3 linked regions of the Homo sapiens genome follow. The protein of the gene in region 1 interacts with the protein of each later gene in a biochemical or structural test. Each region holds a gene or a part of one and is shown in the gene's direction. Other genes may lie near its edges.

Region 1 (3,654 bases):
TCCCAGGTTCAAGCAATTCTCCTGCCTCCTCCTACCAGGTTCAAGTAATTCTCCTGCCTCAGCCTCCTGAGTAGCTGGGATACAGGTGCCCGTCCCTCCACCTGGCTAATTTTTGTATTTTTAGTAGAGACCAGGTTTCACCATGTTGGCCAGGCTGGTCTCAAACTTCTGACCTCAAGTGATCCTCCCGCCTCAGCCTGCCGAAGTGCTGGGATTACAGGCCTGAGCCAGCGTGCCTGATTTGATTTCAACTTTCAAGTCTTATTATTTAAGAAATACATTTTATAAGACTTTATCTGCCATAGATAGTGATTCTCCTGAAGGATCTGGGCAAATTAAATTGAAAACCTTTTGGAAAGGATTTACCATTCTAGATGCCATTAAGAATATTCATGATTCCACCTGGTGCAGTGGCTTATACCTATAATCCCAGGACTTTGGCAGGCTGAAGTAGGTGGATCCTTTGAACCCAGGAATTGGAGACTAGGGTGGGCAACTTGGCAAAACCCCATCCCTATAAAAAATACGAAAATTAGCTAGGCCTGGTGGCATGCACCTGTAGTTCTAGCTACTTGGGAGACTAAGGCAGGAGGATTGCTTGAGTCTGGGAGGTCGAAGCTGCAGTGAGCTGTAATCATGCCACTGCACTTCAGCCTGGGTGATAGAGTAAGGCCTGCCACTCCCACCTGCCCACACACACACACAAAAATATTCATGATTCATGGGAGGTCAAAATCAACATTAATAGGAGTCTGGAAGAAGTTCATTCCAACACTTACGGATGACTTCAACGGGCTCAAGACATCAGTGGGAGAAGTAACAGCAAAAGTGGAAATAGCAAGAGAACTAGAATTAGAAGTGAAGCCTGAAGATGTGACTGAATTGCTTTATTTTTTATTTTTACTTTTATTTTTATTTTTTTTGAGATGGAGTTTCGCTGTGTCACCCAGGCTGGAGTGCAGTGGCGCAATCTTGGCTCACTGCAACCTCCGCCTCCTGGGTTCAAACAATTCTCCTGCCTCAGCCTCCCAAGTAGCTGGGCTACAGGTGTGCACCACCATGCCCAGCTAATTTTTGTGTTTGTAGTAGAGACGGGGTTTCACTACCCTGGCCAGGCTGGTCTTGAACTCCTGACCTCATGATCTGCCCACCTCGGCCTCCGAAAGTGCTGGGATTACAGGTGTGAGCCACTGCGCCTGGCCTATTTTTAATTTTAATTTTTATTTATTTTTATTTCTTTTGAGACAGAGTCTTGCTCTGTCACCCAGGCTGGAGTACAGTGGGGTATCTCGGCTCACTGCAGTCTCCACCTCCTGGGTTCAAGCAATTCTTATGCCTCAGCCTCCCGAGTAGCTGGGACTACAGGCATGCATCACCATGCCCAGCTAATTTTTGTATTTTTACTAGAAATGGGGTTTCACCATGTTGGCCAGGCTGATCTTGAATTCCTGACCTCAAGTGATCTGCCTGCCTCAGCCTCCCAAAGTGCTGGAATTACAGGCATGAGCCAACATGCCCGGCCTGAATTGCTTTAATCTTATGATAAAACTTGAATGGCTGAGGAGTTGCTTCTTATGGGTGAGCAAAGAAAATGGTTTCTTGAGATGGAATCTATGTCTGGTGAAGATGTTATGAGCATTGTTGAAATGACAACAAAGGAACCCTGCCCTGAAAAAGGTGTGTAAACTAGTCGGAGGGATGGTGGGAAACCATAACCACCTCATGTATGATTTATTTATTTTTGAGATGGAGTCTTGCTCTTTCACCAGGCTGGAGTGCAGTGGCGTGATCTTGGCTTACTGCAACCTCTGCCTCCCGGGTTCAAGCAATTCTCCTGCCTCAGCCTCCCGAGTAGCTGGGACTACAGGTGCCCGCTACCACACCCGGCTAATTTTTATATTTTTAGTAGAGACGGGGTTTCACCATGTTGGCCAGGCTGCTCTCAAACTCCTGACCTCATGATCCAACCGCCTCAGCCTCCGAAAGTGCTGATTACAGGTGTGAGCCACCACACCCAGCCTGGAGTTTTTCTTTTTTATCCTCTTCTCTCCCTCCAATTATAGAAGAAATACAAATTCCTCATAAAATCTTCATGGATAAAGAGAAAACATGGATAAAGACAAAAGTCTGCTCTGTATAATGACCAGTGACAGAATTTTGGAATTTCATTCCTGTTTCTTTCTGTAAATAATTTTCTTATTTCTGAAAAGTACATGGAAATCATGTAAAACCATCATTTCTGGGGTAAAGAGCAGTGACTTATGTGCTCTTTTCCTTTTTTAGATCCTGAGAGTCAGACCTTGAAAGAACACTTAATTGATGAATTGGACTATGTATTGGTCCCTACCGAGGCGTGGAATAAACTACTAAACTGGTACGGCTGTGTAGAAGGCCAGCAACCCATCGTCAGAAAAGTGAGTTATGTGAATTGTCCCACCTGCTGGTCACTGTCTGCAGGTGCTTTCTGTTGGACACTGACTAGTGTTTGCTAGGAAAATGAACATACCTCAGTGGTTGAATAGTGGTGCTTGAGGCCTTGTTTCTGGATCTCTTTTTTTTTTGAGATGGAGTCTTGTGCACTTGTCGCCCAGGCTGGAGTGCAACGGCACGATCTCGGCTCACTGCAGCCTCTGGCTCCCAGGTTCAAGTGATTCTCGTGCCTCAGCCTCCTGAGTAGCTGGGATTACAGGCGCCTTTCACTACGCCTGGCCAATTTTTGTATTTTTAGTAGAGACGGGGTTTCGCCATGTTGGCCAGTCTGGTCTCAAACTCTTGACCTTGTGATCCGCCCGACTCGGCCCCCCAAAGTGGTGGGATTACAGGCGTGAGCCACTACGCCCAGCCTGTTTCTGGTTCTCTTTAGGAAATTGTGGTTGTGAGTGAAGTTGCTCACCCAGAATATTATCATGAGTGGCCTCTAAACATCAGAGCTGCCCAGTGGCTTGGAATGTGCCCAGCAGCGCTGTGAGAGAACTTTCTGGAAAATTCTATGAGAGAAAGTTCACTGGGGGCATATGGACATATAGCTAATGTCCTGCATCTTGTTTATCTTAAAAAACCTTTATGATACTGCTTTTCCCTCTATGCTTAAGAGTCTTTGAGCTAGGCGCAGTGGCTCACATCTGTAATCCCAGCACTTTGGGAGGTTGAGGCGGGTGGATCACGAGGTCAGGAGATCAAGACCACCCTGGCCAACATGGTGAAACCTCGTCTCTGCTAAAAATCCAAAAATTAACTGGGTGTGGTGGCACATACCTGTAGTCCCAGCTACTCGGGAGGCTGAGGCAGGAGAATTGCTTGAACCCAGGAGACGGAGGTTGCAGTAAGCCGAGATCACCCCACTGTACTGCAGCCTGGCAACAGAGTGAGACTCGGTTGCAAAAAAAAAAAAAGAGTCTTTGATCAGGCCGTGCATGGTGGCTCACGCCTGTAATCCCAGCACTTTGGGAGGCTGAGGCAGGCGGATCACGAGGTTAAGAGATCGAGACCATCCTGGCCAACATGGTGAAATCCTGTCTCTACTAAAAATACAAAAATTAGCTGGGCATGATGGTGGGCCCCTGTAGTCCCAGCTACTCGGGAGGCTGAGGCAGGAGAATCTCTTGAACCCAGGAGGTGCAGGTTGTAATGAGCTGAGATCGCACCACTGCACTC
Region 2 (3,654 bases), on another chromosome or scaffold:
TGATTTCATAGTGAGGACTTTTTTTTTTTAATTAAATTTAGGCTTGAGGGATGGTGTTTGTTCTTTGTTCATGTAAGACAGTGTCTTGCTTTGTCACCCGGGCTGGAGTACATGATTGAGGCTAACTGCAGTCTCGACATCCTGGGCTCAAGCAATTCTCCCACCTCAGCCTCCCAAGTACCTGGGGCTACAGGCACATGCCACCACACCCAGCTAATTTTTTAAATTTTTGTAGAGATGGGGTCTTAACTATGTTGCCTGGGAAATCTGGCTTTTTAATAAAGAGTCTTAGTCATGAATAGAATATTTCCTTTCAATCCATTATTTAAATGAATTTTAAAGGTGCCTTTTTTCTCCTCCTTTTTTTTTTTAGTTTAATACAATTTTTTAGTAAAATGAAGAAATGGATGGACATGTCAAATCTACCACAAGAATTTCGTGAACGTATAGAAAGGCTAGAGAGAAATTTTGAGGTGTCTACTGTAATATTCAAAAAATATGAGCCAATTTTTTTAGATATATTTCAAAATCCATATGAAGAACCACCAAAGTTACCACGAAGCCGGAAGCAGAGGTGAGCCCTTAATCCTTATATAATTGACATAAAGATTATGATACAAACTAAGAGAATATACTTTTTTGAAAGTCTGTTTTTTATGAAAAGTATTCCTGCAAAGAACTTAATTATTTTCTTTTTAAATCCATGTACAATTATCCATATTTGGAAATTCAGGATAATACTTTTACTTATTTTTCTTTCTGTTGTTGTTTTTTTTTTTTTTTTTTTTTTTTTGAGGAGTCTCATTCTGTTGCCCAGGCTGGAGTGCAGTGTCCTGATCTCGGCTCACTGCAACCTCTGTCTCCCAGGTTCAAGCAATTCTCCTACCTTAGCCTCCTGAGTAGCTGGGATCACAGGTGTGCACCACCCCGTCTGGCTCATTTTTTGTATTTTTAGTAGAGACCAGGTCTCACCGTGTTGGCCAAGGTGGTCTCGAACTCCTAACCTCAGGTGATCTACCCACCTCGGCCTCCCAGAGTGCTGGGATTACAGGCATGAGCCACCACACCCAGCCCTATGTTCTGATTATTTTATGCAGGTTGGAAAGGCTTACTTAAGTCCATTTCATAAATAATAGATTACTTTTCTTCATGAATGGAATTTCATGTGTAATTTGATCTATTTGATATTTACATTTACTATTTCAGTTTACATGATATTTAGCGAGCTAGTCAGACAAAAAGTAATTTTTTTCCCTTTTTAGGAGGATTCCTTGCAGTGTTAAGGATCTGTTTAATTTCTGTTGGACACTTTTTGTTTATACTAAGGGTAAGATGACACTTTCAGTGGTCTTACATTTCTACTCTGGGAACTTGGTGCTATTTGACATGAGAGGTTTCTGGTTTTTGTGTCTTTTTTTTTTTTTTTTCCCTTATAAAGGTAATTTTCGGATGATTGGGGATGACTTAGTAAACTCTTATCATTTACTTCTATGCTGCTTGGATCTGATTTTTGCCAATGCGATTATGTGCCCAAATAGACAAGACTTGCTAAATCCATCATTTAAAGGTAAGACCTTTTATTTATTTTTGAAAACTGATTATCAGTTTTTGGAAAAAGATTTTTAAAAGTTGACTATTTTTTTTTCCCTCTGCCCTTCCTACACTGTCAAACTAGGTTTACCATCTGATTTTCATACTGCTGACTTTACGGCTTCTGAAGAGCCACCCTGCATCATTGCTGTACTGTGTGAACTGCATGATGGACTTCTCGTAGAAGCAAAAGGAATAAAGGAGCACTACTTTAAGCCATATATTTCAAAACTCTTTGACAGGAAGGTACTGTACTTATAATTAGATGACTGAGATGTTTACAGATCACCAGTAATGTGAAAAGAAAAAAATGTTTTAAGCAAGTTCTCAGCATTATAGAACTTAGGGTCAGGATTCCCAGGCTTTAGCCTCTACTGTGATTCAGAATTTCCTTATGATCTTGTGTGATGTGAGAAACAGAGCTGTTGAAAAATGTGACCAACTATATGTACTGTTGGGTAAATGTACTGTCAGAGGCAACCGTAGGAGGTACTGATAAAGAATTGTAAAGAATAGAACATCAGAGTAGGGCTGACAAATAATTAGGAAAAACAGGAGGTCAGAATAAGCTGACTAATTTACTGCCACAATTTGAATAACTGCTGACTGTTGACTAAAAGTAGGATGATGTATAACAACCACAGTTTTAATTCCATGTAAATCGAGCAGAAAATCCATGATAGTTTTGTAGCCACTTGTAGGCTATCTGTGTGCATTCTGGACATTGTCTCCTTGGTAATTAACTTAGCTATTTCTACATTTATGAATTGGCTTGTTCCTTTGGGTTTCAATTTCTTATTTCCCCAACGTCGAGCCATTAAATGTAGTTAAGCCTCAAGATTTCTCTTTGGTAAAAGGAGGGGTTTGGATTATGGATCCCACTTTTCAAATATTATGAGATTTTTCTTTAAGCATAAATTCTTCCCTTACTGGTTTCTTCTTCTTTTATACAAATTTTTGTATTCAGTCTTGTGTTCCTCAGATATCTATATTATGGCCCATTGTCTGTATGCTAAACATCTCTAGCAAAGTAAACTTTTTTTAAAGGATCCCAGGGACTGGGCGCGGTGGCTCACGCCTGTAATCCCAACACTTTGGGAGGCCAAGGCAGGTGGATTGCTTGAGCCCAAGAGTTCCAGACGAACCTGAGCAACATGGCAAAACCTTGTCTCTACAAACAATACAAAAATTAGTTGGGCATGGTGGTGCACAACTGTAGTCCCAGCTACTTGGCACGCTGAGGCTGCAGTGAGCCATGATTGTACCACTGCACTGCAGCCCTGGTGACAGAACAAAACCCTGTCTCAAAAAAAAAAAAAAGTTAAAAAAAAAAGTTATTTGCATGCTAAATAGTTTATCCTAGTCTGAAAGAAATATTTAATAATTCTGTTTTGTGTGTGTGTTATAACAATATGGAAATTTAGATAAATTTCACGTTTGTGTGTGTATTAATATGCTTAATTATATGGTGTCCCAAAATAATTTTTTGTTCACAGATATTAAAAGGAGAATGCCTCCTGGACCTTTCAAGTTTTACTGATAATAGGTAAATATCTAGTACTAATGGTGCCTGGCTTATCACAAGCTGTCATATTTGTTGATTTGTTGAAATTTGTTAAGCATAACAGTATATCAAAGTAAGACCTCCAAATTCAAGTTCTCTCTGCTTTAGTGGCATTGAATGTTTATTATCACTAAGACTTGTTGGCTTTAAATACATTTATTTTAAGAAATCAAGGCCAGGCACGGTGGCCCACACCTGTAAACCCATCACTTTGGAAGGCCAAGGCAGGCAGATTGCTTGAGCTCAGAAGGTTGGAGACCAGCCTGGGCAACATGGTGAAACCCTGTCTCTACAAAAAATACAAAAATCAGCCAGACGTAGTGGTGTGAGCCTGTGGTCCCAGCTACTTGGGAGGTTGAGGTTGGAGGATCGTTTGAATCTGGGAGGTTGTGGTTGCAGTGAGCCGTGATTGCACCACTGCACTTCAGTCTAGGTGACAGAGTGAGACCCTATTTCCAAAAAAAAAAAAAAAAAGAAAGAGGCCGGGCATGGTGGCTCAC
Region 3 (3,654 bases), on another chromosome or scaffold:
CTTCTCTACTAAATAATACAAAAAAAAAAAAAAATTAGCCAGGCGTGGTGGTAGGCACCTGTAGTCCCAGCTATTCGGGAGGCTGAGGCAGAAGAATCCCTTGAACCCAGGAAGCAGAGGTTGCAGTGAGCTGAGATTGTGCCACTGCACTCCAGCCTGGGTGACAGAGTGAGACTCCATCTCAAAAAAAAAAAAAAAAGTTTCAAAGTTCAGTGCCCTATCAAAATTTTGATGTTTTGTTTTACTCTTTCATTTGTATTTGCTTGATAATGTTTTGATTGCCTTTTCTGTCTAGATTTGTGATTTTGGATTGGCCAGAGTGGAAGAATTAGATGAATCCCGTCATATGACTCAGGAAGTTGTTACTCAGTATTATCGGGCTCCAGAAATCCTGATGGGCAGCCGTCATTACAGCAATGCTATTGACATCTGGTCTGTGGGATGTATCTTTGCAGAACTACTAGGACGAAGAATATTGTTTCAGGCACAGAGTCCCATTCAGCAGGTATGATTTCAATTTAAGGCTTTAGTTGCAATTCTATTGCAGATTTGAAGGAAAATCCATCTTGCACATGTGTCTTGGGCTTATTCATTATACTGTCTAATTTGCTTTTAGGAAATTCAGGTTCACTTAAAATTCAGAAAGTTATAAAGTTGAAGATTACAAAGAGATTCATTTTGTAACTTATGAGCCTTTAGAGGGAGTATTGAGTTTATTTATGTATTTATTTATTATTATTATTATTTTTTGAGACGGAGTTTTGCTCTTGTTGCCCAGGCTGGAGTGCAATGGTGCCATTTTGGCTCACTGCAACCTCCACCTGCCAGGTTCAAGCGATTCTCCTGCCTCAGCCTCCCAAGTAGCTGGGATTACAGGCACGCTCCACCACACCTGGCTAGTTTTTGTATTTTTAGTAGAGACAGGGTTTTGCTGTATTGGCCAGGCTGGTCTCGAACTCCTGACCTCAGGTGATCCACCTGCCTCAGCCTCCCAAAGTGCTGGGATTACAGGCATGAGCCACTGCACCCGGCCAGTTGACTTTATTATATGCACTGATGCATAGCTGTGAGCTCTGCTATGACAATTTGCACAGGTATAATCTTCAGTTGTTAGAAGGCCTCTCTTCCTTCTAAGTGAATGGCTCTGACTTGAAAATGTATTGGTGACTTAATGTACTTACACTTTGTGCTTAGAATATAAATTTTTAGTGTGTTGATTTCTTGAAATCTGAACATTTAGGAAAATTTCTAACCTTTATTATTGGACTAAAATATCTAAATATGGCAGAGAACATCAGGAGATGATTAAAATATAATTTCCTCAGAGAATCCTTTAGAAGCCATTCATGTTACTTGAATTGTCTTTAAAGCTAATTATTCACTAATACACATATTGACATAATTACTGGGTATTTTGTATTAATTTGCTTGCATGAAAATAATGTAGTAACTATGAGCTCAGGCTGTGAAATCAGATTGGTGGGTTCAAATCCTAGCTGCACCACTTATGTTAAATCTTGGGTAAGTTACTTAACCTCTGTGTTCCTTTTTTTTTGCTGCTTCTTCTTCTTTTTTTTTTTTTTTTTTGGCCCCTAAAACTGTTCTGAGGATTGTTGTACAATGAAGTAGGAAAGCTGAAAACGGGGCCTGGCACATAGTAAGCACTCTGTAAATGTTTGCAATTACGATGGTGGTAGTGTGCCAGGACTCTAGGGATACAGCAGTAAATAAGACAGCATTGTTCTTAACCTTTGTGAAACTTTTACATGAGACAAAAATAAATATGCAAATAAATATGATTCCAAGTAATGGAAGTTCCATAAAGAAAAATGTAGCCAGGTTAGGGACAGACAATGGTGGCAGAGCAGAGCAGGCACTAAAGGATTCTCTGAGGATATAACATTTCACCCACATAAAATAAGGCAGTAAGATGCTGGAGAAATGTTCCAAGAAGAGGGACAACCACCATAACAAAGCCCCTGAGGCAGGAACAAGCATGGCATGTTGGAGGGAAGGTATGTGATGGAAGACGCTGTAGGAAATGAGGTCAGAAAGTGAGAAAGAACCTGGCCATGGTGACATGATAAAGCCTTAAGATTTTATTCTAAGTGTGATAGAAAACTTAAATGAAGGTTTTGACCAAAGGAATACTAAGATTTGATTGATGACATTTTAAAAGATCACACTGACTACTGTGTCTTTGTAAATAATTAATGCACTTGACCAGACAGAATTATTTCTTTTATGCTTTTTCTACAAAGAATTTTTACCTAATATGTTAGAAACTATATCTGCTTTTATCAACATTTAAATTTTTCTATGCTATACGTTTTAACTGTCTTTTTTAAAGTTTACATCTTAAAAATTGATTCTGGTGTTAAAAAAATTATGTACATATAATACTTAATCTAATGTTGGGTACTTTTGACAATATTCACTTTTCAATTTCTTCAGAAAGTAAAGTTTAACAGACTTAACCTGTAAGACTATCATATCTGGACATAAGCTGTCATAAAATGGATGTGACTACTACCTTGCATACAGAAAAGCTTAAGTAAAAAATAATAAGGAAGTATTCAAATCCTATATATGGAACAAGAATCTTGAATTGCTGCTGCAAAAAATATGTGAGGGAAAGTGTGAAGCAACTGGACTGGAGTTCAGATATCCCTTTGCTAGAGAAATACATAGATCTTCAGTTTGGCAGTCTGACATAGCCACTGCAGGAGAATTCATGTCTGTCTAATTGTTGGTGTGTGTTGGGGTGAGAAATGAAGATCTAAAATAGGAAAAGGCTCTAACTTCTAATGGAAGTCATTATTTCCTGTTGTATTTTCTCTGTATCTTTGAGATTTAATTACCCTGGTACTAGCAGACATCATAAAAGTGTTTCTCATGTATGGATCTGACCCATTTTAGACAACTTTCTGAATGTTTCAGTTTGTTTTTATAAGCTAGTCATTTCCTTCTGCCTTTAGTGTGGTTGTTAGAGATCCAAAAGTATCACCTACACACTTTTCCCAAAAAGCTTTGTATAGAGATCTTTATTTCTGTGGAAAGCAAGCTTCTCAAGTATCTCCATTAACCTGTAGGGTGTTGATGCTGATGGCTACCCCATGGTTTAGATAAGTGCAGAAAATAGTGCTTTATATTCGGCAAGCCCAGAACCAGGAAAAGAAGTGTTCTCTAGGTAAGAATTTCCCATCCTGGAAGGATCCAAATGAAATGTTATTGCTAATTAGGTTATGAAGTTAGAACAATTGTGACACTACAGAAAATTGGTAAGATAGTTTGCTACCCAAAGACTTGTTTGCAAGAAGACTGTTTTATTGGTCTCTTTTATTGTGTCCAGCTAGCTAAATGTGGTCTTATGTGGTGTCATATTTTTCTAAGTGTCACAGTTTTCTGCCAGCGTAAGAGATTTCTAGCATGACTAGAATGTAAAGGATGTGTACTGGCCCAAGCATGGAGAGCTTAGCTTTCATTTCAGGTGTGAATATTTTCAGTATTTATTAAATCACAGGTGTCTGATTTGTGGATTAGCACCTTGGTGAGCCTGAATCCATTTGAAGCATCAGAATCCATTCATTAACTGTTTGGAAAGAATAGTCATTAGGCATCAACAGAAGAGGAGTTCAACTTTGCAAAGATCTT

The links.
Region 2: the proteins of USP4 (region 1) and RBL1 form a complex in vitro, tested with the Homo sapiens proteins (one study listed by BioGRID).
Region 3: the proteins of USP4 (region 1) and NLK form a complex in vitro, tested with the Homo sapiens proteins (one study listed by BioGRID).

What each region holds. Positions count from the first base shown.
Region 1 is NC_000003.12:49,326,446-49,330,099, reverse strand, and holds part of USP4 (ubiquitin carboxyl-terminal hydrolase 4), read left to right. Parts: intron 1-2,283; coding exon 2,284-2,414; intron 2,415-3,654.
Region 2 is NC_000020.11:37,064,906-37,068,559, reverse strand, and holds part of RBL1 (retinoblastoma-like protein 1), read left to right. Parts: intron 1-373; coding exon 374-574; intron 575-1,262; coding exon 1,263-1,327; intron 1,328-1,438; coding exon 1,439-1,567; intron 1,568-1,675; coding exon 1,676-1,836; intron 1,837-3,086; coding exon 3,087-3,136; intron 3,137-3,654. UniProt on the Homo sapiens protein: Key regulator of entry into cell division. Directly involved in heterochromatin formation by maintaining overall chromatin structure and, in particular, that of constitutive heterochromatin by stabilizing histone methylation.
Region 3 is NC_000017.11:28,168,153-28,171,806, forward strand, and holds part of NLK (serine/threonine-protein kinase NLK), read left to right. Parts: intron 1-295; coding exon 296-505; intron 506-3,654. UniProt on the Homo sapiens protein: Serine/threonine-protein kinase that regulates a number of transcription factors with key roles in cell fate determination. Positive effector of the non-canonical Wnt signaling pathway, acting downstream of WNT5A, MAP3K7/TAK1 and HIPK2.